Regions from separate parts of the Homo sapiens genome. Here region 2 is reported to be linked to region 1. Evidence: microRNA targets listed by miRTarBase, many of them from high-throughput screens and not tested one by one. Region 1 holds a microRNA gene; the other region holds the end of a gene's coding sequence.

Region 1 (4,644 bases):
TCTATCCTAAAACAGAGCCTGTGATCCACGCTGCCATAGGTGCTGCTCTGTGGTGTAATTTGCATGCAGGAAAAGACACAGATCTGAAGGGGCCTGTTCAATGGAATGTTTTTAGGTGCCAGCTAGTTTTTTTGTGGTAGTAAAATATATATAACATAAAATTGGTCATGTTAGCCATTTAAAGTGTATAATTCAGTGACATTAACTACACTGGCAGTGTTGAACAAGCGTTACCACTGTCTAATTCCAGAACATTCTCATCATGCTAGAAGGCAAAGCCCATGGCCATTCTGCAGTCCCTCGCCCTTCCTCCTGCTCAAGCCCCAGCAACCACTCACCTGCTTTCTGTCTCCAGGGGTTTGCCTGTGCTGGTATTTCCAGCTAATTCTTTTTTGTTTACTTTTTAAAAAAATAGTCATAAAATACACAGAACAAAACTTAGCATGTCAGCCGTGTGAAGCATACAGTTCAGGAGCATTACATGTACCCGCGTGCTTGCGCAGCCAACCTCCAGAGCTGCTCAGTGCCATGGAGTTGCTTGCAGGAGTGGCACCCCTGCCCAGCTTGAGAGCTGTGGTGTTTGCTTCCCCAGCCAGGCAGCCACCATTCCGAACACCATCCTCAAAGTTGTCACACCTTGACTTACTTATCATAAAAATCCAGGACTTTTTAGCTTTGTTGGACAGATTCCCTTTTCCTCTAAAGACATTTCTGGGCTACTCATGATATTTTGTGGTGTGACCGAAAATGTCTAAAAATGAAGATGAGAGTCAAGGCCTAGCCCCTTGTTAGTCGGGGCTCAGACTAGGAGCCGATGTATGGGAAAGTGCTGGGGTGAGAAGAGATCTTCCAGCATCGCAAGATCAAGTATCTTGGCAGCTTTAAAAGAATGTCAGTAGAAAGCACAGAACGCGTCCTGCCAGGCCTCTGCTGGCCGGTGTCCGTCTGTGTTGTCTGACCGCCTGTCGCCTTTCTTGCCTTCTGTACGTTCTCCCGCACAGTGGCCTACAGCCCGAAGGCTTGTGAAATGAGGCAGTGTCTGATAGATGTGACACCCGAAGCTAGGCGCAGGGGACAGGTCAAGGCTCAAGCCCTTGTGCTTTATTGCTGAATATGCCTAGTGTTCCCTTATTGGAACGCTAATCATATGGGAATTATTCGTGTCCTACTGTTCAAGGTCATCGCCAAGGTCTGATTTTTCAAATTCAAAAAATTGCAACCTCAGGCAAAAATGGGTAGGAGGGGGTTCAAGGTGCAGGAGAACAAGGCCTCTCCCCAGCTTTTCCAGTCTGTGCTTGGCAGCAGGAAACATTCCGGGCGTTTACTTCAGTTTGCTTCCATTTTATTTAGAGGAGCTGTTGGTTTTGAAGTCTGAATAATCATGGAAATAGCCTGCTAAACACTTAACGATATTTATTGCACAAGATTTAATGGGAAAGTGGAGCAAAACATTGTATGGAATCCTGGCAGCCGTGGGTGATTCTCGGCTGATTTTCCACACCTGCTGAGGCACATGGCCTCTCCAAAGAGCTGCCATTCCATGCGTGGGTGTGTTTGGATCTGGAGGGCAGAGAGGGCTGTTGGGAACAAGAACCTTGAGGGTTCCAGGCTAAGCAGAAAAAAGAACTTGGCCCACTGGATGTCACCCTGGGCCCTTCCCAGTCAGGGTAGAAGTTGTGGCAATAATAATAATAAGCTAGAGCCCATGCATGCTAGTGAAGGCAGTTGGAAAGGACAGGTGCGGCCCCACATGGTGAATTGAGGGGAAAGAGCCCTTCCACACATCCCAGCCCTGGTGCACCGGCAGGGGAGGCCAGCTGGGGACCTGAGCTTGGGATTGGAGTTGGAACTGAGGAAGACTTCTTCGCCATTGTAGAGAGAGTTGGGTCTCTGTGGATGTAGGACGCTGTGGCTCCTCCATGGTGCGTGAGCCTCATTCCCTTTGCTGGCTTGGGCTGTTGATGGAATGAGCCTCATAAGATATTGTTCTCCTTTGAACCTCATCTTCCTTTGGATGGGATGCCTAGAAAGATCTGCTCTGTGACCAAACACACTGACTCCTTCTGGTAGATCAGAACCCAGGGAAAGAGGTCGATTTCAAAACCAGGAAACTAGAGAGCATGGCGCACCATGAGGGTGAGGGTTACAGGAAGCTCTGCCTTTGAAACGGAGTGGGGGAGCCGTCTCCCTGGGGTGGTGTGGGGATGGCCCCATTGTGGCCCCCGGCGAGTGTGTCGTTTCCTCCCAAGGGTGAGATGCTGCCACCCAGCCCTGCAGAGCCCCTGACTCGCATCCTTCCCTTGGCAGATGAGAAGAACATCCTGCACATCATGGTGAAGGTGGTGAAGGGCCACCGCCCCGAGCTGCCGCCCGTGTGCAGAGCCCGGCCGCGCGCCTGCAGCCACCTGATACGCCTCATGCAGCGGTGCTGGCAGGGGGATCCGCGAGTTAGGCCCACCTTCCAAGGTGAGCACCCCGGGGTCTCCCCGCCACATTCTGTGGGTGTCACAGGAGACAGAGGTGACAGACAGGACAGGGTGAGGGACCAGGCCTGGGTGAGAAACAAGGCGTGTAACAGGTGGGCCGAAATGAGCCCTGCACAGATAGGTTGGACCCAGCACCTGCCTGCGGCCTCTGGTACTCACGGCTCGGCCACGGCAGCTGGAACTGAGTTGCCTCCAACCATCCGCCCCCTGCTCCCCACCAGGGTTGGGCTTGCCACCCAGAGGAGTCTGTATGGGAGCCTGAAGTTCAGGTGCAGCCATGCTCTTCCCGGGGACTTACCTGGCCGGTGGCCGGCGGCGTCGCCCTTCTCTTGAGGAGTTGACTTCCTGGGACAGATGTGTCTCTGGCATAGGAAAGTCACCCTGATGAGATGGAAACTGCTGCATTTAAAGCTTACGGCAGGAAACGGGCTGAATGGGGAGCTCATCCGCCAGGTGCTGGCAGCTCTGCTCCCTGTGACTGGCAGGTGGCGCTCCCCCGGGGAAGGCTTCCGCCTTGAGTCTGGTGAGGCCTTCAAATGATTACCGATGGGGGGGCCTGGGTTTGGCCAGCAAATTGTCCATGTAGGGCCCCTGGGCTTGCCTGGTGAGCTCAGGCTGGGCCGAGGCGTGTGAGAAATCCCCCAGCTCGTGGGGGCCCTGCGTTTATATGGAACGCGTGTGTACGCAGAAGTCATCATCCGAGTGACATGTCCCCTTTCTTCCCCACAAGAAATTACTTCTGAAACCGAGGACCTGTGTGAAAAGCCTGATGACGAAGTGAAAGAAACTGCTCATGATCTGGACGTGAAAAGCCCCCCGGAGCCCAGGAGCGAGGTAACGAGTCCTTCCCACAGGGGTCTTTTGTCTCCTCGGCTTCCAGGCAGGAGTTTCCAAACCACTCCTCTTTGCAGAGTCCCCCGCCGCCCGGACCACTCTCCCTCTCTTCTGAGCCCATCCCGCACCCAACTCCATTAGAAGTGTAGGTCCCATGGGGGCTCAGGTCCACCTGCCCGACTGCATCCCCGCCCCACCTCCTGTCTGATTCTGCGTGAGTGGCGGAAGGGCTTCCCTGACACTAAATAGCCACTCATTGGATGTGTGTGGACCACGGGGATCAGAAGGCCCAGCCCCGGCCGGGGAGGGAGAGCTGGTGTCTGAGTGTCTTTGCACCCCTGGCTCGGGGATCCAGTTCCTTTATAGCTGCCCATAAATGGTCTGCACTCTGATGAGTGCCACCCAGGTGATTTCAGATGTGATAAGAAGCTCCAAGTAGCAGGGCTGGCTAAATGCCTTTTCGGGTGATGAGGCTGGAGCAGACCTGTGAGGCCCAGCTGATAAGTGAGCTTTATAACGTGTTATCTGGTGTTGGGCGATTAATCCCAGGCTGTTGGTGTGAGCTCAGGAGATCAGGAAATATGTATATCAGGAATATGCGCCCACTGCCTCAACATAAAGTGCATGTGTGCCAGTGAGCCCGGGAGCAAAGGTGCCCGGGGGTTGCTAGTACAGAGGCAGACCTGGGCCCTGATAAGGGAAAGAAGGCAACCAACATGTAGGGGTGGCTCGGTACACCCAGCAACAGTGCGGGACCTCGAGCCGTCCCACAAAGGGTGGGGAGTTGGGGCAAACAGGTGTGCCTAAGGGAAGAAGCGTGAAATCCCGTCAGATTCCACTTACCCACCAGAAACCTGCTGCCCCTGCAGTCCATGAAGCGAGACTCTTTAAAAGGCCCCATCGGTGTATGTCGGATTGGATCACCCCTCGTCCCTGTAGCCGGGTCCTTCCCCTTTCCCTCGTCCCCACACAGCCCCCAGGCCAGCCCCACGTGGCTCCGCGGGGAGGTCGCAGTTGTGGCCACGTGTGGGGGTCCTGCCCAGTTCCTGTCTGTCCTCTCGTTTCCTGCCAACGCTGGCCTGTGCTGGGCAGCTGTGTCCCGCCATACATGCCTCACATTCTGCAGCTTGACACCGCCTGCCTTTTGTCTGGGTGACGCTCTGTGCAGTGTTACTGAGCAGATGGTATCCAGAGCTGCATGAGGCTGGATTTTGCACTTTTATGAAGGCTATCTTTCCTTAAGATGTCTCCGTGCTGGGTGGGGCCAGCGCAAGTCTTTGTAGCTCCAAGTCTTTGAGCTCCCTGGCGCTGTGCGGGTGCAGAG
Region 2 (4,322 bases), not on the chromosome of region 1:
GTCACCCCAGCTCTGACAGTGAGGAGAATGAGGCCAAAGGCCGCAGAGCCACCATTGCAATATCCTCCCAGGAGGGTGATAACTCAGAGAGAACCCTGTCCAACAACATCACTGTTCCCAAGATAGAGCGCGCCAACAGCTACTCGGCAGAGGAGCCAAGTGCGCCATATGCACACACCAGGAAGAGCTTCTCCATCAGTGACAAACTCGACAGGCAGCGGAACACAGCAAGCCTGCGAAATCCCTTCCAGAGAAGCAAGTCCTCCAAGCCGGAGGGCCGAGGGGACAGCCTGTCCATGAGGAGACTGTCCAGAACATCGGCTTTCCAAAGCTTTGAAAGCAAGCACAACTAAACCTTCTTAATATCCGCCACAGAAGGCTCAAGAATCCAGCCCTAAAATTCTCTCCAACTCCAGTTTTTCCCCTTTCCTTGAATCATACCTGCTTTATTCTTAGCTGAGCAAAACAAGCAATGCTTTGGGAGGTGTTAACTCAAAGGTGACTTCTGGGCCACAGATCAAGAAAGCATTTGATCTGACCCAGTGCCAGACACAGGGGATTTAAGGCATGTTCACACTTGCTGGGCAGGGAGGGGGAAGAGAGGGAGAAGGAAGGGTTAGAGATGAATGTGTATCCGCAGTCACAGCAGAAAGCCATGAGAGCAGGGGAAACAAGGGGCTTCGAGCACGCTCCATGCCAGGAGGCATCTGTTGATTTCTGACCATTATCAAGAGTTGTAGGATGCAGGGCTAAATTGCAAAATAAAATAAAATAGCCAGCGTACACAATGAGATATTCTAAACTTCCATTCTGTTTTCTTTTCACATTGGCTCCATCACTGGTGACTGATGAAGAGCATCCTCTTTATTCAGTATAAGCCGGCAGCAAGCAGTTCTACCTAACGTCCCACATCCTTCTCATGCCAACACTTCTGTAATTGATCATTATAAAGAAAAAACAAGGTAACAGTCATAGTTCACCTGTCTCTTATCTATTCACTTCTGGTGCCACAACTGTTTATCCTTTTTTGAAGAAAATAAGGGAACAGAAATGCCTTTTTGTATTGCAATCGAAATGAAAGAAGAGTTGATGTTAAAAAAACAAAAGTCAAGTGATTTATTATATACAGTGGGCGTTCAAGTCTAGTCGAGCAAGCTCAGGAGAATGTAATTAAATAATTTTATATTTTTTAATTTATTTTGTATCTCACCTGTCATGGATGAATTCATTCACTGAATATGTAATATTGAACTTAAAAAAAAAAAAAAAAAAACAGTGGACAGAACTAGCCTGAAATTGCCATGTGGGATGTTCTGTTCTCACCGTTCATGTCGTGTGTTGTGCTGCTGTGTGACCGTCATCATTTGCATGGCTCCACCACGTCCTCCTGAACACCTCCAAGACGTAACTGCCAATTTTTCACACCACTCATCACATGACCATTTTGTATATGAATATATGGTTATATGTGGATATTTTCATACCTAGAGTTTTGCCATCTAATCTGAGCTCAGCATAAATTTAATTGGAGTTTTTCAAGGGCTGGTATCTTTTCTATGGAAATGTTCCAAAGTACTTTTTAAGGAAGTTTCAAAACTATAAATAACCTTAGATTTGACTGGGAGTTTGGTATCAACCCAAAGCCATCAGTTGCAAGCATACCATGAATATTTTTCTTATAGACAGAGCTATAAAAAAAGATACAGTAGACCAAAATAGAAAGCAAATAAACCATATAAAGAGTTCTATAGTATATGCCACTTATACACATGTATATGCATTTATGCAGAGACACATATTTATATATAAAATAAATGGACATAAAGAGCTTTCTTAAGAGGCTTGGACTTTTCTATCACCTTGAAGTATAATCAAGATTTTTTTTAATATACAAGAAGTTCCATTGAAAGAGTTCATTATACTATTAGACCAAATGTTGAAATTATGAATTTTTTAAATTCCTATGACTTTTCCTCATATCAAACTAGAGTTGTCAAAATGACTCACTGCTCGCCTTCTGCCCTTTTTTGTCTGAAATCACTCACTATCAGGACATCTCATTTAGTCTCGCTTTTCCTAAACAAAGTTTTTACACCACGTACAATCTGAATAGACACGCAACTTTAAACCAGCTAGTGTTACAGACTCTAAAGTAGAGGCATAATCTTCTAGATCAGAATCTGGATTGGAAGTGGGATAAAGAAATCTTGACCCCAAATCTTTGGATTCCTATTTGGCTCATTAACGTTTAAAAAAGAATAAAGCCTTTAAGGAAAACAATCTATTGTTCCTGGCCTGAGATACTACCTGGTTCTTTTGTTTAATTATAATTGAAAACACCAAGTTTTACTTTATTTTGTGAAATCAAGTAAATACATGGCCTTTAAATATAAGATAAAAAACAAAATAAAAACTCTTCTGAATAAGCATTTCAGGTATAAAAATTGTGATGAGGTCACATATGTAAAGAATTAAACAATTCCTTTTTCACTCCTTGGCATTTAGGTGAATTGCTAACAAACACCCAGACTCCCTTATTTACAGCTGTTCTAGAAACACTTAACATTTTATTGGGCCCCACGCTGGCTATTTCCCTCTCAGCAAACATGCACTGGGTCTGAGAATAAATCAGTCGTTCTTAAACTTCCTTGAGTCATGAATCCCTACGAGGCTCTACGATAACTCTAGGCTCTCTCTCCAGAAAGAAAAAAAAAATGTACATAATGCAAAGTTGCAATATAACTTGAAAGGGTTCATGAGCCCCTGGTTCTATATTGATTATGAGGGAAAGGAACCATGTTTGCTCGTAGTTAATGCAGTTGTAATAGGCACTTTACATTTGAGACCATCTCTCTGTGATTCTCAGGAAGGCCAAATCTCAGCACCAGAGTTTGAACAAAGATTTTGTTATTTTTGTTCTTTAAATTAGATGTTGCCAATTTAATGCACTTACATCCTAACATGTTGATGATTTTAAGTATCAAGCACAATCACAATGCTGAAGTCTCCCTGAAGGGTCTATAGAGGAATCCAAGAAGGAGGTGAAAACATTATTCATTGACATCAAACACCTCCAAGGCCTCATTCTGGGCCAGATTGGAAGTGAGGGAAAGAAATTTTCAGCTCAAGTGTTTCCATTCATCGTGATTTCAGAGAGAAAAGGATAGGAACTGGGAAACGAAATACTCAACAGTCCTGATCTTGCAATTACCTGATTCTTTTGTTGTGCATGAAAATTAAGTTCTAACGTCTGTGAAACGTGTGAAATATATAAGCCAAACTTAAATGACTGTAGACACAAACTGTGTAACTTCCATGAGCCATTTCCTTCCTGTGCACATGTATGTGTGTTATTTTTCAGTCCATTTCCTTCCATTTCTGGGTTCTCTGTGCAGCAATGTGGCATTGATTCTGTGGCCTTGTGCAGTCAGCTTATGCTCAGCCCATTGATTCCACCACATCCCTGATCGAGGGGACGTTAATTACCTGTCTTTGTGAATTAAGCAGTTTATGAGCAGCAAGTTACTGAGGACCGTAAATAAAGTCATAGAGAGCTCAAGGAAGTAATAGCTTCGGTTTAATCATCTGCTTCAAAGGTGCCAATTTTTACATACTACTATATGTAATGATTTGTTCTAAATTGCTTGTTCCTTTTGAAAAAAATTTAAGGATGTTTTATGAAAATGACCATGGAGGTCTCCTGCTTAACCAATATACTTTATATTTATAGTTAGAGGGCCCCTCCTTGATAGATTTGAATGAGGAGCTGGAAAGCTTGGGTACAATTTTCATGACTAGTTTGTATTATCTCTGCAAGCCAAAAGGTGTATTAGCAGTCAGAATACAGCACTTTACAGAACTGGATTTTTTAAATGTATAAGTTTCCAGGTCTAGGATATTATTTAGCACTTTGAAAGTTCCCCTTTTAAAATATATATATAAGAATAATCAAACGAGAAAAATGTACTCATAAAAACACAAAATGTGTTTCTTCTGAATGTTTCAAATGTATTCTAAAATATGGTTTCTATAGATAATATTATGGTAGATAACTGGATAGTACTTTTTTACTTTCTGAGTCTGTACAGTCTAATCTTCCTGAATGTTTGGGCTGTTTAATTTCTTTAAAGATGATAAATATTACCCGGTCATCCATCATGCTCTATCTATAGGCTATACCATTCATATGTTGGGCAATGCTGTATTATAAAACACATGTAAACATGTATGTAACCCATGTTTAACCCAGCGTAGTTGTAGCATGTGGTTGTATTAATGAACGTTACAGGAGAGCTTTATAATCATTTATAAATCTGTAACAT

What was found. Region 1 holds the annotated microRNA hsa-miR-6814-5p (UCCCAAGGGUGAGAUGCUGCCA, at 2,243-2,264, shown strand). A microRNA usually pairs through its seed, bases 2 to 8, with sites in the 3' UTR of a target mRNA and lowers its output. Matches are read on the target gene's strand: a 7mer-m8 pairs with bases 2 to 8, a 7mer-A1 pairs with bases 2 to 7 and ends in A, and an 8mer does both.
Region 2: the mRNA of TRPM3 is a reported target of hsa-miR-6814-5p. The part of its 3' UTR that is shown has no 7-base or 8-base seed match.

The regions. Positions count from the first base shown.
Region 1 is chr21:41,744,435-41,749,078 of GRCh38, reverse strand. MIR6814 (microRNA 6814) reads left to right here and starts at 2,238; the gene lies at 2,238-2,307. It overlaps RIPK4 (receptor interacting serine/threonine kinase 4), which reads left to right. Exons shown (of 8, transcript NM_020639.3): 5 at 2,308-2,466; 6 at 3,217-3,320.
Region 2 is chr9:70,531,984-70,536,305 of GRCh38, reverse strand. It overlaps TRPM3 (transient receptor potential cation channel subfamily M member 3), which reads left to right. Exons shown (of 26, transcript NM_001366145.2): 26 at 1-4,322. The coding sequence ends at 353. All of the region lies in intron 3 of KLF9-DT (KLF9 divergent transcript), which reads right to left. Among named protein-coding and RNA genes, the nearest start is that of KLF9, 120 kb to the right of the region's middle.